Homo sapiens: one gene and its partners. The protein of the gene in region 1 purifies or fractionates together with the protein of each later gene. This does not show direct contact. Each region holds a gene or a part of one and is shown in the gene's direction. Other genes may lie near its edges. The genes, in order: SLC39A12, FAR2, SLC25A17, POM121C, PODXL2, MANEA and NT5C3A.

Region 1 (2,434 bases):
CGAGTGTGGCAGCACATGCCTGTAGTCCTAGCTACTCAGGAGGCTGAGGCAGGAGAATTGCTTGAACCCGGGAGGCAGACATTGCAGTAAGCTGAGATCCCACCACTGCACTCCAGCCTGGGTGACAGAGTGAGACTCTGTCTCAAAAAAAAAAAACTTTATATATATATATATGTATATATATACACACACACACACACACACACGCACACATACACACACACATACATACACACACCATATATATGTGTATATATATGTATATACATATGTATATATGTGTATATATATGTATATACATATGTATATATGTGTATATATATGTATATACATATGTATATATGTGTATATATATGTATATACATATGTATATATGTGTATATATGTATATACATGTATATATGTGTATACATATGTATACATATGTATATACATATGTGTCTATATGTATATACATATGTATACGTATATGTATGTACATACATATGTATACGTATATATATGTACATACATATGTATATGTATATATATACACACATATATGTATATGTATATATGTATACATATATATATGTAGCCACAGGAGATAATGTCCTTACTGTTCTAAAGATCAGGAGGATCTTAGTCATCGCTCTCTCTCTCTCCTTTTCTTCCTCCCTCCTCCCATAATATGTATATATGCCTTACATCAACCTGTGCATATAGTAGTTCTATAAGCCTAATAGAACAGTCCAAAATAATAATTTTGATGCATTATTTACTTCACATTTAAACATTTTCTGAAAAGTAAGAGTTGGGTTTGTTTTTGGTTGGTAACTATGTCATTTTAAGACTTCTACCAAAGGCCAGGTGCAGTGGCTCACGCCTATAAGCCCCAGCACTTTGGGAGGCCGCAACATGCAGGTTGCTTGAGCCCAGGAGCTTGAGACCTGCCTGGGCAATACAGGGAAACCCCATCTCTACAAAAAAATGCAAAAATTAGCTGGGTGCAATGGCACGCACCTGGAAGGCTGAGGTGAGAGGATTGCTGGAGCCCAGGAGGTTGCTGTGAAATGTGATCGCAGCCATTGCACTCCAGCCTGGGTGACAGGGCAAAGACCCTGCCTCAAAAGAAAAAAAAAAAAAAAAAAAAGACTTTGCCAATCCTGGGATCCTCATAACCACAATCAAATGGCTTACTTTTAGCTTACATTTCAAAGACATGGTAGAGTAGGTATTCAGCATTTTGTAACTGTTTTGGGAATTTTAAAGGTTATTAAGTTCTGAATAACAGTCGCTCATGTTTTCCCACCAAGCTTTTCCCAGCAGTTGAATATATCTGGATCTTATTCTGGTTTTTTATTCTTTTTTTAGCTTCCTGAAATGACTCATGTTCAAACACAACGACCCTGGATGATGTTTCTCCTGCAAAACTTTGGATTGATCCTAGGTTGGCTTTCTCTCCTGCTCTTGGCTATATATGAGCAAAATATTAAAATATAAGTGAGGATCTTCAACATCTTTCAAAAATGCATTTATATAGTCTTACTTTGTTTCTTTCATTGCACTCTATAATGATTTTTAAATTAAGAATTTTTTATCTTAGGCAAAGTGTGTCTCTTTCAATTCATTAACTTATTAATTTTATAATGCAGTTTTATTTTTGGAAACATATAAATATCAGACTGTCCTTAATTGAAATTTTGTCTTTGGTTTCCAACACCATGATGAAGCTCTTGCTTTTTAAAAAGTAGTTAGTAAATTCTGCATGAATTTTAGTAAACTTTAAAAAATAGATTTTTTCCCTAAGAAAGAATGTTTGTAGAATTTAAAGTGGACAGATGCCTGTTGGAGTAAAATCAACTGCAACTTTTTGATGTTAATTTTTTTCCCTGTGCAATTATAAACTATAAGCAAGTTAAGTGACAAGCAAATGTAATAAAGACTAGTTTTAATATGGTGGTTTTTATTACCTTCTGTTACTGGATGTCAGATTCTGAGTCATCTCTTAAAAAAACAATGTATAGTTCACCCACTGACTCTAGAGCGCTTGTGAACAAGCCATTTTGGGAGACCTAAAGGATAACATGTCAGCATTCTTCTATGTAAGTCGTCAAATGAAATCTGTTCCAGGCAAGGGGAGCTGGAAACATAAGATGAAGTTCAAAATTTTTAAAGTAACAAAACTGGAGTCAGGCAGTAGATGAATGCCTAAACTCTCACAGATTTAACAGAGAATATTTATGGGAATAATCTCACTAACACGTGAGATATATTTTATCTTCTTTCTGAGGAAACAGAATCCTGAACAGGATTTCAATAGGTAAGTTCATGAAATGTACATGCAATTTACTGATAACCTAGCGAAAGTGTTGAAACAGAAAATAACCCTGGCTTTAGTCAGTTTTCTTAGAAAACAGATGCCTTATATTTTTCTTATTTTTTAAATGCTATT
Region 2 (3,500 bases), on another chromosome or scaffold:
AACGTGGCTCCTCTAGGTAAGCAGCCCTTAGTGCGCATCTGCCCGAAGTCCAGATTGATCCAGCCAAGCTGTGGGGCTTCACAGCTCACACTGAAGCATTTAGGGTCTAAACCCCACTTCATTCTTCTGTACAATGAATAGGAAATCAGTGATCTAAATGAGTTTAAATTTTATTAGGGATTTAGACTGCGATTCAGACTCTGACTCTGTTCCTCCCAGAACTAGGTTCAACATGAATTGCAATACAGATATGAGACAGTGAATTATAACAGTGACAAAGATCTTCCTTCCGATTTCTGATTTTTCTAGCAGCCCCTTTCTTTCTGCTTCCCACCTGCCTTCAACTCTTTCTTCTACAAAAGTTCAGTTGGGGTGAACGTTTAGTGACTTAGAACATCATTATTTTAACGTGATCCCAAAACGGCTTTCATTACATGCAAAGCTACATATTTATTTACATTTTCTAAAATGTTCTAAATTGGTTTCTTATGTCCAAAAGAAGGGGAGCTAGTTATAAGAAAACAGAACTGAGTAACATAAGAAAGTGCTAATCGTTGCAAATCAATGTTGGAAACATGCAAAGCACAAAGAATCAATTTCATAAACTCAACCAATTATTAACATGAATAATTCCTAATTCTTGCATCTATATAACATCAGTGATCTGTGAGGTGAACTAAGATACTGAATAAAAAGTAAATAATAAGGCAATTTTTCCAAGCCAAAAAAAAAGTTTTCTTTTATTAATGGTGGAATTTCACCAATTAATGTTTTTCAAATAAGTATTTCTTAAACTTTTAGTGCCTACTATTGCTTGTAAGTTAATAAACCCTAGCAGAAAACAAAATCATCAAGGAAATGGTAAACAAATATTAATGGGAAAATTAATGGGAAATTTGTATAACCTTAATTCTTAACATGTCTTATGAATTAATTTTTAAGATGTAAAAGTTTATTCTTGGTGTTTGTTAATTGAGTTTATTAACCTCTCACAAATTTGAGGAATTTTATTCCCTAAAGGAACGTGAGGAACACTAGTAGTTCATGAAAATGCTGGAGACGCATGCACTTGGCTGGGAAGGTAGGATAGGCTGAGGAAGTCAGACTTAGCATAAGAACCTGGTAAGCAGTGGATCAATGTTAGCTGTTTTCACTTATTGCACTAGTATAACCAGTTTGATGATACATACTTTAGCCCCAGCTATTATTTAAGACCTGGTTTAATATTTTATGTTCTTTTTCCTATGCAGACTGGGAAAGGGTTTCTTCGGGCCATAAAAGCTACTCCAATGGCTGTGGCAGACGTAATTCCAGTTGATACAGTCGTCAATCTCATGCTAGCTGTAGGATGGTATACTGCAGTTCACAGGTGTGGATGCTCAAGTGGGCTTTCAAAGACTTCATGAGGGGCAGAGTGAATATATTAGGCCCATTTTCCAAATATAGGCATTTCATTGTACAAGACCCCAAATGTGTGAAAGTGCGTATTTCAATATTTTATAGAGTTCCTAATATGCCATCATATATGCATTGAGTTGTTTTATAAATACAGTTTAGTACTTGGCTACTCATAAAGTAATAAAACCTTTAAATCACTTAACCATAAAATTCTTGATAACCAAAAGGCTTTTCTTTCTATTCAGTAGTCTAAAATTCAGCTTTCTCTTTTAGGGCAAAGGAGATAGAAGCTGATGAAATGACAGAATTTTTTTTTAATTGAACTCTGGTAAATGCCAAAAGTTCAGTCACGATGTGTGGGGAAGCTTCCTGGTACAAAGGAAAAAAAATAGGTTGTTCATATATTTGGGTCTGTTAGTAAATTAAATTTTTCTTATGTGAACTCACATATATGTACTCCATAATATGTCACTCCTATTTAACATCTCTTTCACACACACACACACACACACACACACATGCTTTTCCTAGTCTTCTTCCATTTTGCTTATTAACCCAGAGAAAGAATGAACGATGGAAGCCTTTCATAGGTTGCCTTAATCAGATGAATTACTGAAACCACTCTGTCTAAATATTATTTTTCCTTATTTTTCTCTCATTAGTTTTCTATTTTGTTGTACTTATCTAATTTTTATTTCATTTTCCAGACCTAAGTCAACATTAGTCTACCACATTACATCTGGTAACATGAATCCCTGCAATTGGCACAAAATGGGTAAGTACTTTAGCTATGTAACTCTATAATTACTAGTGTCTGGCACAGAGAAAAAGTTGACAAAGTGTGTCATGGAGCTTAGAGCTTATATGGGGAGAAAGACAAAAAGTAAGTAAAGAGACAAAATAATGAGAAATTGTAAATGTGTGATAGTTAACTAGAATGTACTGTGGTTACCAAAGAAAGGAGTCAGTGGCAACATGTACAAGATTGTAAGCAGTAAGGGGTCCATTGGCTATAGCGATTTTAAAAATGATGAAACAAAGCAAAAGTTGGCAGTTATAAAGAATGTCAGTGATAAAATACTGAAATACTCCTCCCTGTTGGAGCAATGGCTCCTACACACACCCCTTCCCTTCTTGATATGTCACTGAGAATGCGACATCATCAATGACCAATGAGATAGAAAAGTTAGGTGATATTAATCCTTTGTTATTGAGTCCATCATACTGATCATTAATTTATGCAGCTTGCCTCTCAGGTGTGCAATAACCACTCCACTAGCGATTTGTAAAAGTGAATAGGAAGCACTATGGGAGAAATAAAAACAACACCCAGATTCCTTGAACCCTGGGACCAAGGTCTTGGGTGGTGCTGAGGAAACTATATGTTTAATAAGCATCTAGATGATTCTTGATGCTTGGTGAAACAGAGAAACCCTGTACTATACAAATGATTGATCTGTCTGAATGTAAAGGATTGGATCTGTTCAATGTATAAAACCATGGAAATAGAGTTGAGTACAACTTAAACATCTAATGATGGTAGAAAGTTAAAGTAGGGAGTTTGGCTATTCTGTAGGATTTCTTACTACCTACTAATGCACACTTTCTTTCCCTGTTACATAGGTAACACTACCTCTACACATTCCAGTGGTAAGCCATGGTGCCACACTGAGAGTTCTATTGCAGGGCAGCTAGACACTGTGGCTCATTTTATAATAGGCTTTGAATTGAAAAATGCTTTTCCAAGAATGGAAAATACCTGGCATGCAGGTATTTTTCTCTCCTCCTCTTACACCTATAGCAAACATTGTTGGCTGATACAACATTGTTTCTTCCTGTGCCAAGGCTCTGTTCTAGATTCCCATCTAATATAGCATTTCTGGAAGATATTACTAATTAATCTGATGTTGCATTCAAATTAAATTAGTTTGTGTTTCCTACCAGGGTTAAGAGGGATCAAAATGCTTCCTACTAGGAGCAGTAGCCATGCCATAGGAGGTTGAACATACATAGCCTCAGGTGACATTACAAGGAGTGACAGACAGCTGGGTCGGTGAACATGGGATATCAGAATCTCTTATGCTATCAACCTGTGCATAACT
Region 3 (3,500 bases), on another chromosome or scaffold:
ATTAACCGATAAACTTGACCCCAAACTATCATTGCAAGAAAGAAATCTTTTTTTTTTTTTTTTTGGAAATGGAGTCTTGCTCTGTCACCCAGGCTGGAGTGCAGTGGCACAATCTTGGCTCACTGCAACCTCTGCCTCCCGGGTTCAAGCAATTCTCCTGCCTCAGCCCCCCAAGTAGCTGAGATTACAGGTATGCACCGCCACACCTAGCTAATTTTTGTATTTTTAGTAGAGACAGGGTTTCACCATGCTGGCTGGGCTGGTCTCAAACTCCTGACCTCGTGATCCACCCGCCTCGGCCTCCCAAAGTGCTGGGACTACAGGCGTGAGCCATTGCAACCGGCTGCAAGAAGGAAATCTTTATAGAACCAGTATGGTTTGTGTTCTGGGTACATTTCAACAGAATTCATGTTGTCTTCTCTAGTTGGGGGATTGTGATCATGCTTTTCAAAAGTCCCTGATTTCTTGCTTAGATGCTTTTCATCAGATCATTCGCGATGAAGGAATCTCGGCTTTATGGAATGGCACATTTCCCTCATTGCTGTTGGTCTTCAATCCTGCCATCCAGTTCATGTTTTATGAAGGTTTAAAACGGCAGCTTTTAAAGAAACGGATGAAGGTAATCCTTGATTTTGAAAGCAGTAAAATAATTCTGTCTGACACCTTCTTGTTGACTTGATTGATATGGTTTGTTCTTCCTTTGCTTTCCAGCTTTCTTCCTTGGATGTGTTCATCATTGGTGCAGTAGCCAAAGCGATTGCCACCACGGTGACCTATCCCCTGCAGACGGTACAGTCAATTCTGAGGGTGAGTGCTGGAGTTCTCTTCGCATTTAGTCAAACAGCATTCGAATACATGTAGTCTCTTGATTTAAAACAATGTTAATAAAGCAATAAAGCAGTTAGTTGGTATACCAGAATATTCCCTATCTGTTTTTTTTCTTTTCTTTTTTTGAGACAGGATCTCCCTCTGTCACCCAGGTTGGAGTACCGTGGTGCACCATGGGTCTCTATACCCTCGACCTCCTAGGTTCAAGCAGTCCTCCTGCCTCAGCTGCCCAAGTAGCTGAGACTACATACACCACCTTGTCCAGCTAATTTAAAATTTTTTTGTGTGAAGATGGGGTCTCACCATGTTTTCCAGGCTTGTCTCAAAGTCCTGGACTCAAGCGATCCTCCCACCTTGGCCTTCCAAAGTGCTGGGATTATAGGCATGAACCATTGTGCCTGGCCCCCATTTTTTCATTTGTTTGATATTCTGCTTAACTAGGCTGGCTGTCATTGGTTTAGAATGAAGTTTGCATTTGTAATTTCTTAGGTAACATAATGTCTCAGAAAACACAGATGTGGAGACAAGTTCCTTAAAGACCTCAGGAAAGCATAAGTTTGCTTCCTTCTCATTCAAGTTGATTGGTTTGGTGCCCCAGCAGGGATTATCCTTTACAAAGTCAGAGGTTAATTCCTTTAGTTCACTCAGGAGGAATGAATGATTTAGCTTTTTTGAAGCACTCTCAAACTTCTGTTTTTTATTTCATTCAGTTATTTATCCATTCAAATATTTACTAAGCATCCACACTGTGGGAGGACCTGGGCATGCAGTGGTAAATAAAAGTCATAATCCCTGCCCTTATGGAGCTAGTGGAAGAGAGAATGAACAGGTAAACAAGCAAAATAAATAGGTAATTACAAATTGAAAAAAGAACTATAAAGGAAATTATTTACTGGAGAGGGGCATGGTGGGGCTCTTCTTAGATAGCATGATTGGAGGTGGGCTTCTTTGAGAAGGAATATTTAAATCAAGATGCAAAGGAGGGTAAGGCCCTAGTGGGGCAGAGTGGACGAAAGTGCATTCCAGGCAGGGGGAGCATGATGTGTGTGTTAGTCCATTCTCATGCTGCTCTAAAGGACTGCCTGAGACTGGGTAATTTATAAAGGAAAGAGGTTTAATTGACTCACATTTCAGCATGGCTGGGGGGCCTCAGGAAACTTACAATCATGGTGGAAGGGGAAGCAAACATGTCCTTCTTCACATGGCGGCAGCAAGGACAAGTGCAGGGGGAACTCCTCCTATAAAACCATCAGATCGGTTGGGCGCGGTGGCTCACGCCTGTAATCCCAGCACTTTGGGAGGCCGAGGCGGGTGGATCATGAGGTCAGGAGATCGAGACCATCCTGGCTAACAAGGTGAAACCCCGTCTCTACTAAAAATACAAAAAATTAGCCGGGCGCGGTGGCGGGCGCCTGTAGTCCCAGCTACTCGGGAGGCTGAGGCAGGAGAATGGCGTGAACCCGGGAAGCGGAGCTTGCAGTGAGCCGAGATTGCGCCACTGCAGTCCGCAGTCCGGCCTGGGCGACAGAGCGAGACTCCGTCTCAAAAAAAAAAAAAAAAAAAAAAAAAAAAAAAAAAAAAACCATCAGATCTCATGAGACTTATTCACTACCACAAGAACAGTATAGGGGAAACCACCCCCATGATTTAGTTATCTCCACCTGGCCCTGCCCTTGACTTGTGGGGATTATTACAATTCAAGGTGAGATTTGGATGGGGACACAGCCAAACCATATCAATGTACTAAGAATTTGGTGTATCCTAGGGACTGAAAGAAGGCCTCTATGGCAGTAGAGTGGCTCAGGGTGAGATTGCAAGAGCAGCAGGGAAACTGTAGGTGAGGAATGTAGATTTTTATCCTCAGCACTTTAAGCTGAGAATATGTGATGGGAAGGGCTTTAAGCTGGGGAATATGTGCTGTGATTTACAATTGAAGAAGACTGTTGTGGCTATTATGTGGTGAATTGGTCAGAAAGCTAAGAGAGAAAGCCAGGGGCAATCTAGTAGGAGGCCATTTCAGTAATACAGGCAAGAGAGGATGGTGGCCTGGACCACGGTGGTGGCACTGGAGAGGAGAGGGGTAGGATGAGGACAGATTCAAGATCTGTTTTGGAGAAAAATTTCAAAAGGCTTGTTGCTAGATAAAATAGGGGTGGTAGTGAGAATATTCCAGTTCAGAAAAATTAGTACCTTCTGTTAAAAGCATTTTTACTAATATATTATTTTAAAATTGGTACTTAACATAAGGGAATTCAGTAGCATCCTTATAAATGTATTTTAACACTTTTATAATGTAAACACATAATCTGAAGAGCTTAGACTGCAGATGTTCTAAATGATTCATTTCTCAGAATTTCTTAAAGAAGTGGAAGTTATTACCATCAATATCTAAATCATCATCCTGGGCATATTTTTTTCTTTTGAGGTAGAATTTTCCCTATACCTCTCTATAAAATGAAAATTATTATGCTTGCTTCATTGAAAAATTTTTCTTAGGCCGGACATGGTGGCTCATGCCTGTAATCCCAGAACTTCGGGAGGCCGAGGTGGGTGGATCATTTGAGGTCAGGAATTCGAGACCAGCCTGGCCAACATGGTGAAACCACATCTCTGCTAAAAATACAAAAATTAGCCGGGCGTGGTGGTACATGTCTATAATCCCAACTACTCGG
Region 4 (3,500 bases), on another chromosome or scaffold:
CCACGCCCAGCTAATTTTTTGTATTTTTTTGTATTTTTAGTAGAGATGGGATTTCACTGTGTTAGCCAAGATGGTCTCCATCTCCTGACCTCGTGATCCACCCCCCTTGGCCTCCCAAAGTGCTGGGATTACAGGCGTGAGCCACCACGCCTGGCCATGACAGCGTATTTTTAAAATGAAGTTACTAAATGAAAAATCGAAAATTTAATGGAAGCAAGACTAAATTAGTTTACTGGGTTGTCTTCTTTAATTTACTTGTATCCTTTCCGTAGACAGTCTGGCACAGGTTTGAATGTGTCCTGGCTCTTCATTACTGAGGCTAATATATGCAAAAGTGTGTCCATCCCTTCTACCTTTATTCACATTCCATTACTTTTATAGACTTTTCTTTTTTTGCTTTCATAATTAATACTGGCAGTTGACTTTCTTTTCAGGGGTCTTTCTTCACAAACAAATTTTTTTCATTTTCATTTTCTATTTTTTTTTTTTTTTTTTTTTTTTTGAGACAGGGTCTCACTCTGTCACCCAGGCTGGAGTGCAGTGGGGCAATCTCAGCTCACTGCAGCCTCCTGAGTAGTTGGGACCACAGATGCAAACCACCACACCCAACTGATTTTTCAATTTTTTGTAGAGACGGGGGTCTCGCTATGTTACCCAGGCTGGTCTCAAACTCCTGGGCTCAAGCAATCCTCCCACCTTGGCCTCCCAGCATGCTGGGATTACAGGCATGACTAACCATTTAACCATAAAAAATATTTTTTTAGTCACTTAAAAAGAGACTTTGTCATGTTGAGGGTCAGATGCTAAGTTATCAGCAGGCTCAGTCATGTCCCTCTTGATTTTTAGCTGTGGAAGAGAAATGGCCCCAGTTCATCACCCTTCTCTAGCCCAGCCTCATCCCGCTCCCAGACACCGGAGAGGCCAGCAAAGAAAATAAGGTATTCGGCATTCTCCTGCAGTTTTCATTTGCTACGTGGACAGAAGGGGGTGAGGAAAGGTGGGAAACGAACCTGGCTCTTAGGCTTTGTGCTGCTGTGACTTGGAGAATCAAAGAAACTAAGTCCCTGAGAGGGACAATGCAGCACCCACCTGAACAACTATCATCCCTACAGTCTTGGATACTGACTCCAGTGGCCTCTGGCTGTCGCCTCCCACTCCAGCATGAGGGATCGGGTGCAAGCACAGAGGCCATGCAGAGTGGAGAGCAGAGAGAGTCAAGTCAGCGGGCAGTCGCCTTCAGGTTCTTGACTCGAGCTGATCCCCTAGGTGCTTGCAGTTGGCTGGAATGCCACTCCCTCAGGGATCACATCTGTGTCTAGAACTCCCAGGGACTTGGTAGGTTGTAAGTAAGGTTTGAAGATTATTGTTTTGTGCTTGTTTTAAGACAAAAACTGTCTTCATGGCCTCTGTGAACAGCCTCCCTTCATTCTGTTGGAATTTCCTGTTGACTTTTTTTATCCTGGCATACTGAGATCTTAAATGATGGTTGTTTTAGATGTTGGCCACTTGGTAGTTAGGAGGGTGTGAGAAATTATTTAATACTTCAGCCAAGAAGTCTTTCTAGACTAAATTGTTCCTTTTTTCCCAACAGAGAAGAAGAGCTGTGTCATCATTCCAGTTCTTCAACTCCATTGGCAGCAGACAAGGAGTCCCAGGGAGAAAAGGGTAGGTTGCTGAGCCAGGAGGAGGGGCTGCTGTTGGTGGTGGAGGTATTTGTGGAGGATGTAGAGATTAATACCTATTGAAAAAAGGTCTTGAGCATTGCTATGTCTAAGGCATGTTAGATACAAAGAGAGAGATTTCCTCTCCTTCAGAAGTTTATAGTCTGATGAGGGAGAAAGGCTACAGATGGGGGCTAACGATTGGATAGAGGTAAGCTCAGTTTGAGTCACCTGTGGGTGATCCCAGTAATTACTGCACAGTAAGCGGTTTGTGTGCGCGCCTTAATCTTACAAACACCATCCAAGCAACCAAACCATAGAAGATTGAATCTTTTCAGAGATACCATCATTGAAAACTCAGTGTGAAATGCGAAGTGGGTAGACACAACCATCCATTTCTGGAAGAGGGAAGGAAGCAAACGAGTCTTGATTTCTTTCTTTAGCTGCAGATACAACCCCAAGGAAGAAACAAAACTCGAATTCTCAGTCTACACCTGGCAGCTCTGGGCAGCGTAAGCGGAAAGTTCAGCTGCTGCCTTCTCGGCGAGGGGAACAGCTGACCTTGGTATGGTCTTGTCCATCTACTCCTGCCCTCCCCGGCTTAGCTCTCCTAAGTCTTAGGAACGCTAAGGACAAGTTTCTTCTGTTTTTTTTTCTAACTTATTTTTGTTTTTGTTTTTTGAGACAACATCCCTCTGTCACCCAGGCTGGAGTTCAGTGGCTCGATTTTGGCTAACCGTAACCTCTGCCTCCTGAGTTCAAGCAATTCTCCTGCCTCAGCCTCCCAAGTAGCTGGGATTACAGGCGCTTGCTACCACGCCTGACTAATTTTTTGTATTTTTAGTAGAGATGGGGTTTCACCATGTTGGCCAGGCCAGCCTCAAACTCCTGACCTCAAGTGATCCAGCTGGCTTGGCCTCCCAGAGTGCTGAGATTACCGGCGTTAGCCACCACGCCCAGCCTTCCCGTTTTTTCTGATTGGCCTGACTTCTTCTTTTTCTCTTTGGTAGCCTCCACCTCCCCAGCTTGGCTATTCGATCACTGCCGAGGACCTAGACTTAGAGAAGAAGGCTTCATTACAGTGGTTCAACCAGGCCTTGGAGGACAAGAGTGGTAAGGAGCACAGATCGTTGCACTCTCGAGAGGTTTCAGGTGTCTGTTTTCTTTGGTTTTATTTTGGTGTTTGGAAAAATGGGTTTCTCTGGGAAAATCCGAAGTAGAGTTCCATGTTTTCTTGTGGTCTTTCTCACCTGAGATATCCGTGTTGGTCTTCACGGGAACTGGACAGCAGGGACTACTGCAATTTAGGGCAGACATTCCTCCATGAGCTGTGCTGAGAGCCTGCTCTCCGACAGGCATGTGGAAAGAAGTCCCAGACAAGCCAGGACTGCTTCACCTTTCTTTCTTTCTTAGATGCTGCCTCGAACTCTGTCACTGAGACCCCACCTACCACTCAGCCTTCATTTACCTTTACCCTGCCTGCTGCTGCAACTGCCTCCCCACCCACCTCCCTCCTGGCCCCAAGCACCAACCCACTGTTAGAGAGCTTGAAGAAGATGCAGACTCCCCCGAGCCTGCCACCCTGCCCAGGTGAGCTGGAGTGGGGCCGTGGATCCAGCCTTCTGAGCAGCATCCCCGGCTTGGGTTGGAATAAGGGCGTCGTGCCTGTCAGTCGCTGGAGATTGCTCTGCAGGCCGAACGCACCCTGGCTCAGCACACCGGAGCGGGCCTACGTTTAACAGCGCCGGAGCCCACATCAGGAAGTGTTAGAGAAGGGGTGCTGCGACGCTCAGGATCTGAAGCCTGGCTTAGCTGCCCTGAGCCTCGCCTTCCTCATTT
Region 5 (3,500 bases), on another chromosome or scaffold:
GGCACCAGTCTTGTGTCTTCTCTAGCCTCCCCTGACTGTCTGGCTTTTATGTCTGCACAGGAGCGTTCCTGGGTGCCTGTGTGGCTGGGTCTGATGAGCCTGGCCCAGAGGGCCTCACCTCCACCTCCCTGCTAGACCTCCTGCTGCCCACTGGCTTGGAGCCACTGGACTCAGAGGAGCCTAGTGAGACCATGGGCCTGGGAGCTGGGCTGGGAGCCCCTGGCTCAGGCTTCCCCAGCGAAGAGAATGAAGAGTCTCGGATTCTGCAGCCACCACAGTACTTCTGGGAAGAGGAGGAAGAGCTGAATGACTCAAGTCTGGACCTGGGACCCACTGCAGGTAGCTCTTCTTACCTACAGAGCATGTGTTGAGTGCCAGCCAAGTGTCTAGGCAAAACACCAGGTGACCATTTCCTTGCCAGAAGCATCTCTTCTCTCTCCCTACAGTTTTTACCATGCTGCTGCTGTTTACCTGCACATCAGAGCAAAGGCTCTGGGACCCTGAATGTCTCACAGGCCCAGGAGGCCCTTTCTCTTTAATACTAACCACTGTTTAGGGAGCCTTTATTCTGTGCTCATTTAATTCAATCTGATGCTTATAACCTGAGAGATAAGTAATATGACCCCCCTTGTAGACAAGAAAACACTGAGACTGAGAGGTTAAAAGCTGGCCTGAGGTCAAACAGCAGCTCAGATGCTCAGTCATGATTCAGACCTATGGCTTTCCAAGCCCTGGGGCTCATTGTTTTGTTTTTCCCTACTGCTCTATGCTGTCTCTGTTGAAGATTGCCACAAGGTCAGCTGATCCATGTTTCCTTGAGTCTATCCGACCAGCAATTGAGGCATTCTAACCGCCCTTCCCTCAGTCATGCACCAGAGCTAGAGCTGGTGTTTGGATCTACAGAGCCCAGCTGGTGAACATTTGGGTCCCGAAGAAAGCCCGAGGCCTAGGGCTCCAGGTTTGAATGCCCACCGCCATGAGCTGACATTGATACAGATGCAGGCATGGCCCCTCCACCAATGTCCTGGGCCAGCAGGGCCCCATCTCTTAGTAGGGACTGAGGAATTGGTGTGATTGTGTGTGCACATGGGGCAAGGTGTTACAGAACTTAACCTTTAATTTTTCTTTTTAAAATAGGTAATATTTATTGGATTTACCTTTTCTAATTATAAAAGAACACATGAACATTGTAGAAAATCTGAAACACACAAAAATAATACAAAGAAGAAAATAAGGCTGGGTGTGGTGGCTCACGTCTGTAATCCCAGCACTTTGGGAGGCTGAGGCGGGTGGATCACTTGGGGTCAGGAGTTTGAGAACAGCCTGGCCAACATGGTGAAACCCTGTCTCCACTAAAAATACAAAAATTAGCTGGACATGATTGCGGGCATCTGTAATCCCATCTACTCAGGAGGCTGAGGCAGGAGAATGGCTTGAACCCGGGAGGTGGAGGTTGCAGTGAGCTGAGATCGCACCACTGCTCTCCAGCCTGGGCGACAAGAACAAAACTCTATCTCAAAAAAAAATAAAATAAAATAAAAAATAAAAACTACCTATAACCTGATAATTGAAAGATAATTACTATTAGTAGTTTGGGGATACATTGTTCTAGTCACTTTATGTGCAAAATTGGAATCATAGGGACATTTTGTTTTCACTCAAAATATTTCATAAGTATATTTCCGCATTGTTAAATATCCATTTATAACCTGATTTTTAAACATGTTATTATTTATTTATTTTTTTGAGATGGAGTCTTGCTCTGTCACCTGGGCTAGAGTGCAGTGGCGTGACCTTGGCTCACTGTAACCTTCATTTCCTGAGTTCAAGTGATTCTCCTGCCTCAGCCTCCGAGTAGCTGGGATTACAGGCATGCGCCATCACACCCAGCTAATTTTTGTATTTTTAGTAAAGACAGGGTTTCACCATGTTGGCCAGGCTGGTCTCTAACTCCTGACCTCAAGTGATCTGCCCGTCTCGGCCTCCCAAAGTGCTGGGATTACAGGTCTGAGCCACCGCACCCGGACAACATGTTATTATTTATTTATTTATGTTTAGAGTTGAGGTTTTGCTCCATTGTTCAGGTGTGATCATAGTTCACTGTAACCTCGAACTCCTGGGCTCAAGCGATCCTCCCACCTCAGCCTCGTAGGTAGCAGGGACCAAAAATGTGCCACCATGCCTGACTAATTTTTTCATTTTTTTGTAGTGATGGGGTCTTGCTATGTTGCCCAGGCTGGTCTTGAACTCCTGGGCTCAAGCGATCCTCCTCCCTTGGCCTCCCAAAGTGCTAAGATTATAGCTGTGAACCACTGTGCCTGGCTTATAACTTGATTTTTTTTTCTTGAGACGGAGTTTTGCTCTTGTTGCCCAGGCTGGAGTGCAGTGGTGCCATCTTGGCTCACCACAACCTCCGCCTCCCAGGTTCAAGCGGTTGTCCTGCCTCAGCCTCCTGAGTAGCTGGGATCATAGGCATGTGCCACCATGCCCGAATAATTTTGTATTTTTTTTAGTAGAGACAGGGTTTCTCCATGTTGGTCAGGCTAGTCTCGAACTCCTGACCTCAGGTGATGTGCCCACCTCGGCCTCCCAAAGTGCTGGGATTACAGGCATGAGCCACCGTGCCCAGCCCTGATTTTTAACAACTACGTTATATTTCATCATGTGGGTCATCAGGTGTATTAAACTGGTTCCCTACTGTTGAATACTTAGGTTGTCTTCAGTTTTAATTCTGCTACAAATATCCTTACACATTTTCGCACCTTCCTGGTGGTTTCCTTAGGATAAATTTCTAGAATAAAATTGATAGGTCAAAAGATGTATTAGGGCCGGGCACGTGGCTCACGCCTGTGATTCCGGCACTTTGGGAGTTCGAGGTGGGCAGATCATGAGGTCCGGAGTTCGAGACCAGCCTGGCCAACATGGTGTAACTCCGTCTCTACTAAAAATACAAAAATTAGCCAGGTGTGGTGGCGGACGCCTGTGAACCTAGCTACTCAGGAGGCTGAGGCAGGAGAGTTGCTTGAACCTGGGAGGTGGAGGTTGCAGTGAGCTGAGATTGCACCACTGCACTCCAGCCTGGGGGACAGAGCGAGACTCCATCTCAGAAAAAAAAAAAAAAAAAGATGTATCAGTCAGCATCCCACGCGGAAACAGAAGACACAATCAAATTAAAACAATCTAAGGAGAGTTTGTTTATGAAGCAGCAGATTTATGAAGGTATGGGCTGGATACAGGTGAACTACCAAAGGACTCACAAGTCCTTTGGCTAAGGATCTGTGGCTAGCAACAGCTGAGTGCTTACCATCTCTAGGCACAGTGAGACCAGGGAAGGGATGAAGATGGGAGCCTGCAGGGAAAGTGGTGTAGAGAGGTGGCCAGATATGGGAGGAGACGAAGAGAATGAACGCCGCACCCCCCACCAAGTGTTCTCTCTTTCCCTTGTCAGTTTGATAGGAAAAATTATAATGGCCTTTGATTACTAGTATATTTTAACTCAT
Region 6 (3,500 bases), on another chromosome or scaffold:
TTATTGTAATGAATGTCACCATCATTTCGAAGAACATTGCTGAAGTTTCTTATAATTCACTTTCTTTTTGGAAGATTGCTGTTTTTACTGTTTTACAGGTTTATAGGCTATTTATGATTTCTGTAGTTTTGATATTTTAAAATGACATTATTTTCTAAACCTTCAGAATATAGCTTTATCTTTTTAAAAAGAAGGTTCAGATTATTAAAAGTGAACTACTTCTTTTAACACAGTAGACCCAGAGCTGATATTTTCATTTATATCTAGCCTGATCAAAAAGAATTTATTAATACAGTTTTCATTTTTTGAAAGAATTTTACTGATAATAGTCTGTGACAGATGCCATAGTCTTACAAAGAAACTTGTCAGCAACAGTAGAACATTTATCACTGATAGATAAAAAAGCAGTTTAGGTATTATGTAGAGTATTATTTATAATGTAGAGACATAGGCTTTTTATGGCATTAGTCATCATTTGTAAACCTCAATATGAGATGGTTAATACTTGTTTGGTAATGCATCCAGTATCTCATTTTCTAATGTGTAAAATTAAAAATGCATTTTTAATTATTACACTTACACAACTGATTCCCCTAAGAAATGGAGCAGTGTGCTCAAACTGCACTGACTCCTTCATTTTCAGTAAACAGTTTTTGTCTGTGGCAAATTAGTTGTGAATATTCATTTCACTTTTATATATGCTTATTTTCTAGATATGGAAATCATCCGGCCTTTTACAGGTACAAGACGAAGACTGGCAATGCTCTTCCTATGTTTTATGTCTATGATTCCTATATTACCAAGCCTGAAAAATGGGCCAATCTGTTAACCACCTCAGGGTCTCGGAGTATTCGCAATTCTCCTTATGATGGACTGTTTATTGCCCTTCTGGTAGAAGAAAAACATAAGTATGATATTCTTCAAAGTGGTTTTGATGGAATTTACACATATTTTGCCACAAATGGCTTTACTTATGGCTCATCACATCAGAATTGGGCTAGCCTAAAATTATTTTGTGATAAATACAACTTAATATTTATCCCAAGTGTGGGCCCAGGATACATAGATACCAGCATCCGTCCATGGAACACGCAAAACACTCGGAACCGAATCAATGGGAAGTATTATGAAATTGGTCTGAGTGCCGCACTTCAGACACGCCCCAGCTTAATTTCTATCACCTCTTTTAATGAGTGGCATGAAGGAACTCAGATTGAAAAAGCTGTTCCCAAAAGAACCAGTAATACAGTGTACCTAGATTACCGTCCTCATAAACCAGGTCTTTACCTAGAACTGACTCGCAAGTGGTCTGAAAAATACAGTAAGGAAAGAGCAACTTATGCATTAGATCGCCAGCTGCCTGTTTCTTAATGCATTGATTAAAGTTTAATAGTTATCAAAATCACCTAATTTTTAAAAATAGCTTTCGTTTTGAGTTCTGGAAAGAAAACTGTCAAAATCAGTATATACTATTAGTTATATTTAAAAATATTTTTTTAAATTCTTTACAGATAATATTATACTTGTTACCCTTCACAATACCACATGAGAAAATATCTGAGACAAAATGTATACAAATATATTCCTTATGGCATAATTTATTGCATTTCTGACTGAAATCAAAATTCTGATTTGATGGCAATTGAATTTTCATTTTACAATAGATAAATGCTTGTGCTACCTAAAGCACTTAGCACACAGTTAAATTATATTTACATCCTAGACCCAAATAAATAGGATTGTGTGTATATTTGGGATATCTATTGAAGAAAAAAAGAAAACCCCTTAAAGATAATGTACATGCTTCATGTCATGTCTTTAAAATAATTTAATCAACTTTATTGTCTTAGTATTTAGACTCTGGATAACTCTACAATAATGAGGAAATTCTTAAGAATAACAAAATCACTGTACCTTCCTCTCAATTTTGCTGTGAACCTGAAATGGCTTTAAATTAATACTCTTATTTTTTATTTAATTTAATTACATAAATTAAACCTTACCATGACCAAATTGTGTTAGGACGGCCTGCTATCTACAGCACAGTGTGTCATTTGCAGATTTGTGGTTACCTATACCACGCTAGGTGTTTTGACATGTTTAGTGTTTCTGCTTTACAGTGCTGAATTCCATATTTTAGAAGCTATGAAAGTCCTTTTATGAAAAAGTTACTGATTGCTTCTCAGTTATTAGGAAAACAGTTGTTTCACAATTATTATGTAGATATGATGCCCAAATATCATTTTTAGTATATCTTGTCGATCTTTAAGTTGTTACTATTGTGTTATTCATGTCTTTAAATCAGATACCAAATATTTTTTAGGAAAGAAAAATGTTATTACTGTCATTAGGTTGTCTTTTAATACTTTAAGTTATTTTGACGAAAAGTAATAGAGAAAATTTACTTAGCATTTTAGATTCTAGAGACATGGAAATGAAAATTATTTTATGTCTAGAGTAGGTCCTGAAGTTTGGCTTTACATTAAGTTTAGCACTGTATCAGAATGAAGAAACTAATATTTTACATAAAAACTAATACTTTCAATTTTTTATATAGTAATATCCCCATTTTGTAAATGTTAGACTTTTATCATACCTGTAAGTTAAAATACTTGTTATCAATAACTTGTCATGTTGTGACAAATTGATCACTTGTGTACGAAAAATAAATCTCCTTAAAAACTAAATAAAATGCACTGTATTCTTACAGTTAATGTTTATAACTATAGTAAAAAATTAATATATATCCTATTACATAAATGTTATTTCTTAGGTGTTCCATTAAGAAGAGCAATAGAATAATGCTAAAAAATAATGCCTATAAATCTTCAGAGTATAAAGACATCCATTCAGAAACAAAAATTAGCACTAAATTTTTTATAAAATAGACCAGATGACAAAATTTATTTTATTTTTAAACAGTGGTTTTGACACAAATTATGTTATTGAAAAGCATTATTAATGTTTAATTTATTTAAAATTTTGGAATTTGCCATTTCTCAGAGAATGATCAGGCCTTAGGAAATTAATACAGTAGTAGTAATCATTTTCTAGGGGAAAATAAAAGAATAAATCACTATACTGATATTTTGATACAAGCAAGCACTTACATGGTAATCACTATATAGATCCAACCTGTGGATTTTCTTCTTATGTCCATTTAACTAGAATATATTATTTTAGGTATAATTTACAAATGTCACACCTAATAATCTTTTATAATATACCATATTTCATTAAAGTTTTGTTAGAGAAGTATCTACCACAGAGGAGTTTTTGTCATTGTGTACGTTGTGTATTTGAACCCACCATGACAGAAAGTAAATTTTAGGAAATAGTTATGAGATTAAGGGAAAATCTATAAAAACAAGGTTAGCATATTCTCAACACAGATACCACCACTTTCTTTTTCCCATTATAGACATGGTGAATCCACACAGCATACTTCATCTCTGAGCTTTGTTGTGATTCCTCAACACATTACCCTAACCAGCCAGCAG
Region 7 (4,018 bases), on another chromosome or scaffold:
CATTCAAAATAATATGTAATATATGGAAAATGTTTTTGTTGAGGAAGAAAGATAAATGAGACTGTGACCATCTTAGGCCTCACAATCAGACAACATTTAAGTCATATTGGTATTTGGTGCAAAACTGGATTCATAAAAAATTACTTTGGCGACAAAATGACACAGTAGTCTAGATATTGATACTCAAATATTCTGGGTATTAAAACTCAGTCTTCTTCAGGTTATACTCCCAGCTAACTTACTTTGGGACACGTTCTCGGTCTATACTGAGTCTGTGTTCCCAGGCTTAAGTCCTCAAACTTGGCCGAGTAATAAAACTAACCATGATTTCTTTAAGTTTTAGTACCTGTTATTTCACCTTTCGGTCGACAAATCGTTTTTCTCATGTTCCTCTGTCTTACATCAATTTAATTTGTAGACCAGCCAAATGACCTAAAAGGCTAGAAGGAAACAATTTTTCCTCCCCTACAACTATTTCCTCTAGTCCTCCGGCTGAAAGTTGTTCCACGTCCTGGGCAGAGAGAGCCCCACCAGGCAGCACCACCAGCTCCACAGAGTTGGAGCGATTCCCCCAAGAAGCTCCCCTGCGCCCCTCCTCACCCCCAGAGACCAGCAGAAGAAATGGCATCTATCCCTTGGAAGACACTAGGCAGGAGAGAACAACTGCAAGCCCTTCTGCTCACACAGAAAAAAGGATGGCGGAGGTGGCGAATGGGATGTAGCAGAAACCCCGCGGCTGCGGCGGAAGGGACACCGCCCCTCTCCAGCCTAACTCTGAGCCATCTTCCCCCTGTTGTTATAGCACTTAGAACGGACGCCACTGCGCAGGTCACACCGTGCCGCGCAGCCTTCTGGGGGTCGGAGTCCAGAGGGGCTGAGGCGCGAAGGCGGAGACCGACTTCTTAGCGGGCCGCAGTTGGAATTAGATTTCTACTGGGGCGGGGCTCGAGCGAACCACGGCCTAATCCTCATTAGCAGAGAAGGATAATTACCGCAATACTCTGCCCTGCCCTGACAGCAGCTCGTGAGACCCTGAGTCTGCTGAAGGCCGCCTCCAGCCTGGGCTCCGGGCACAGGCCACACCCCTCCCGCCGCGTCCTGGCCTCTCCCATCGATGGCGTGTGGGTGGGGCTTCGTGGGGGCGGAGCTGCGCGGGGCGGGGCGTCGCTGCGCGGGGCGGGGCGTCGCGGGCTCGTCCGTGATGCTCTGGGATCCCGCGCTTCCGAGACTCGCAGTCTACGCGAGCTGCCTGTTTTTTTCCTGCTTGGACGCGCATGAGGGCCCCGTCCATGGACCGCGCGGCCGTGGCGAGGGTGGGCGCGGTAGCGAGCGCCAGCGTGTGCGCCCTGGTGGCGGGGGTGGTGCTGGCTCAGTACATATTCACCTTGAAGAGGAAGACGGGGCGGAAGACCAAGATCATCGAGATGGTGAGTGTGGAGGCTCGGCGCGCCCAGAGCACGCGAGGGGCCGGCTGGGCCGTCCGCTGGCCTCGGCAGCCTGTGCTGGGCCGCTGTTCGGTCGCGACGGGGAGCTGCCGGCGTCGCCTGTCAGGCTGGGATCTCGCTAGCTCGGGACGCGCAGCTTGGGGGACCCGGCCGCCCCGCGTGCGGCCACTCCGCGGGCTTGGTGACCAGGGTTGGGTCCCCGGCTGCGGCCCTTGGCTGCCCGTGGTCTTTGTTAGGTTTCCGTTTGAAGGAACAAGGCAGAAAATAGATGAATCGGACACAGGCTACTTTGTGCTGCAAAACCCGTTTCTCTAGAGATAAGCTGCATGTCCTGGGCAGGTGGCTCCTTCTCTCCCTGCCTTGCTCCCGCCCTCCCCCCGGATCCGCGTCAAACCGTTGCCGCTAATCTAGTTGCAATTCCCGCAGAGGACTAGTTTTATGTTGGGGCTGCCGTGAGTTAGATTATGAAAATGTGCAATATCTAAAATTTTACAAGAATGGCAATCCAGGAGAAATTCAGGATAGTTTATTTTGTATTTGAATGTATTCCTTCTTGTCTCAAAACTCCCACGAAATATCTTTGTTTTCATCTTAACTCCCAAAGCTCTTGTATACATTTTCGAATTTAATTTTTTATTGAAGAGGGTGTCTCAAGAATTCCCTTTGAGATACATTATAAGTAATTGTTTCAAAAATGAGGATATTTAGTTTCGTTTTGTATTTTAATTAGAACCCACTCAGGAAGACAATTCTTGCACAAACTTGCACGCTTATGTATTTCCTGAAATGCATAATCCTGGGTATACGCCTGACCGTGTGCTATACATGTGAACATCTAGGGTCAGATGATTTATGATAGAAAAAAATTTAAAATCTACACTAAATAATATCATTTTAGGGTGTAATACTTGGAATTTCTGAGCACCTGCAATATGTTCCAACTGACGAAAGACACGATTTGTCCTATTGGTTGTACTGACCCCAGGTTGAATACAGATGTATTTGCATAATTAAAATTAGCCAGTGTCCCAGCTATTTGGGAGGCTGAGAGGAAGATCACTGGAGTCTGGGAGTTCAAGGTTATAATCACACCTGTGGATAGCTACTGCACTCCAGCCTGGGAAACATAGCGAGACCCTGTCTCTTAAAAAAAAAAGTTAATTCCCACTTGTCTCATATTCCAATAATATTCCCTAATTTTGAATTAATTTATTCTTAAAGGGTCTTAATAATTCTAAAGGCTTATTAAAATTCATTTGTCCCACATCTGTATGCCCACAGCAGCAAATGGTTTTAACTCAGAAGTTTCATTTTGCTTTTGTTGCTTTCCTGCTTAGAAAACTTGGCTTTCTTTTGCCCAAGGTTAATAATGCCTATGTAGGGGAAAAAACCGAGTTGCCATATCTCCCTGCCTGTGCTTAAACTATGGATTGGTCTGTATACCACTTATCTAAGCCAAGTAAGGTTAAAAATCAGTGTGTTCACAAAATCCTTCAATGATACCATCATAGGAACAGTTTGCTATCTTTGTGACAAATAATGAAGACCTATCTAGAATACCAACTTATTGGTACTAAAGAAATCAGTCAATATTTACATGTATGCATAGTATATTAATTCAGATTGTAATATATGTGTAGCCTGCTAGTAGCTTTTCAATGGAAAAAGTGAAAAGAGCTTCATGTTAACTTTTTTAATTTTAATAGGTTGCTTCTTCAAGTGGAAGAAGTATTTGACTGGGGGTCAGAAGACCTGGGTTGGAATCCTAGTTCCATCTTTCTGTAATAATGTAGGTCTGCTCTGCCCATCCTCTGCCCTCCTCCCTCAGAAAAATCTCTGCAAACCCATGATGTCCAACAGACATAGCTCATATTGGTCACAGCTAACGGAGTTAACTACCTAACCAAGTTGGGCCTATCTAACTGGCTAAGAAAACCAATAACTTCTGGGACTTGGTCAAAATGATGCATTGTCTTGCAAGAGTTTTTAATTGAGAGACATGAGGAAGTTGCTAGTGGGTTGTGTATGCTACAGCTGAAATATCCCATAGGGCAGCAAGATTAATGTACAGAAGAAGCCAGTCATGGCTAGGCATGGTGGCTCACACCTGTAATCCCAGCACTTTGGGAGGGTGAGGTGGGAGAACCCTGTCTCAAAAAAAAAAAAAAAAAAAAAAAAAAGAAGGAAAGCAAGATACGGAATGGGATCAAGAAACTGAATTGTAAAGGAATTTTGTAAAGCCATTATAAAGAGTTTGCTCTTTATTTTGCAACAAAGGATCATCAAAGGTTTGCTTTGGCAGGGTACAGTGGCTCACGCCTGCAATCCCAGCACTTTTGGAGGCTGAGGCGGGAGGATCCCTTGAGCCCAGGAGTTCGAGACCAGCCTGGGCGGCATAGGGAGACCCTTTCTCTACAGAAAATAAAGATTTTAGCCAGTGCAGTGGCACACACTTGTAGTGTAGTCCCACCTACTTAGGGGCCGAAGGTGAAATCTCTTCAGTCAAGGTGGTCGAGGCTGCAGTGAGTCGTGATCACACCATTGCACTCAAGCTTGGGTGACAGAGTCACCCA

What was found.
Region 2: the proteins of SLC39A12 (region 1) and FAR2 purify together in Homo sapiens (affinity purification with mass spectrometry; 3 studies listed by BioGRID and IntAct, with this or other methods). This does not show direct contact.
Region 3: the proteins of SLC39A12 (region 1) and SLC25A17 purify together in Homo sapiens (affinity purification with mass spectrometry; 3 studies listed by BioGRID and IntAct, with this or other methods). This does not show direct contact.
Region 4: the proteins of SLC39A12 (region 1) and POM121C purify together in Homo sapiens (affinity purification with mass spectrometry; 3 studies listed by BioGRID and IntAct, with this or other methods). This does not show direct contact.
Region 5: the proteins of SLC39A12 (region 1) and PODXL2 purify together in Homo sapiens (affinity purification with mass spectrometry; 3 studies listed by BioGRID and IntAct, with this or other methods). This does not show direct contact.
Region 6: the proteins of SLC39A12 (region 1) and MANEA purify together in Homo sapiens (affinity purification with mass spectrometry; 3 studies listed by BioGRID and IntAct, with this or other methods). This does not show direct contact.
Region 7: the proteins of SLC39A12 (region 1) and NT5C3A purify together in Homo sapiens (affinity purification with mass spectrometry; 3 studies listed by BioGRID and IntAct, with this or other methods). This does not show direct contact.

Annotation. Positions count from the first base shown.
Region 1 is NC_000010.11:18,041,352-18,043,785, forward strand, and holds the end of SLC39A12 (zinc transporter ZIP12 isoform 1 precursor), read left to right. Parts: intron 1-1,353; coding exon 1,354-1,482; 3' UTR 1,483-1,934; downstream 1,935-2,434. UniProt on the Homo sapiens protein: Uniporter that promotes Zn(2+) import from the extracellular space to the cytoplasm across the cell membrane. The transport activity is temperature dependent. May play a role in neurulation and neurite extension.
Region 2 is NC_000012.12:29,309,778-29,313,277, forward strand, and holds part of FAR2 (fatty acyl-CoA reductase 2), read left to right. Parts: exon of another isoform or gene 1-126; intron 127-1,250; coding exon 1,251-1,369; intron 1,370-2,105; coding exon 2,106-2,173; intron 2,174-3,500. UniProt on the Homo sapiens protein: Catalyzes the reduction of saturated but not unsaturated C16 or C18 fatty acyl-CoA to fatty alcohols (FAls). A lower activity can be observed with shorter fatty acyl-CoA substrates.
Region 3 is NC_000022.11:40,774,347-40,777,846, reverse strand, and holds part of SLC25A17 (peroxisomal membrane protein PMP34), read left to right. Parts: intron 1-473; coding exon 474-619; intron 620-711; coding exon 712-807; intron 808-3,500.
Region 4 is NC_000007.14:75,423,800-75,427,299, reverse strand, and holds part of POM121C (nuclear envelope pore membrane protein POM 121C), read left to right. Parts: intron 1-846; coding exon 847-938; intron 939-1,591; coding exon 1,592-1,665; intron 1,666-2,104; coding exon 2,105-2,226; intron 2,227-2,671; coding exon 2,672-2,774; intron 2,775-3,074; coding exon 3,075-3,251; intron 3,252-3,500. UniProt on the Homo sapiens protein: Essential component of the nuclear pore complex (NPC). The repeat-containing domain may be involved in anchoring components of the pore complex to the pore membrane. When overexpressed in cells induces the formation of cytoplasmic annulate lamellae (AL).
Region 5 is NC_000003.12:127,639,185-127,642,684, forward strand, and holds part of PODXL2 (podocalyxin-like protein 2 precursor), read left to right. Parts: intron 1-60; coding exon 61-339; intron 340-3,500. UniProt on the Homo sapiens protein: Acts as a ligand for vascular selectins. Mediates rapid rolling of leukocytes over vascular surfaces through high affinity divalent cation-dependent interactions with E-, P- and L-selectins.
Region 6 is NC_000006.12:95,605,035-95,608,534, forward strand, and holds part of MANEA (glycoprotein endo-alpha-1,2-mannosidase), read left to right. Parts: intron 1-713; coding exon 714-1,371; 3' UTR 1,372-3,500.
Region 7 is NC_000007.14:33,059,977-33,063,994, reverse strand, and holds the start of NT5C3A (cytosolic 5'-nucleotidase 3A), read left to right. Parts: upstream 1-1,218; 5' UTR 1,219-1,289; coding exon 1,290-1,427; intron 1,428-4,018. UniProt on the Homo sapiens protein: Nucleotidase which shows specific activity towards cytidine monophosphate (CMP) and 7-methylguanosine monophosphate (m(7)GMP). CMP seems to be the preferred substrate.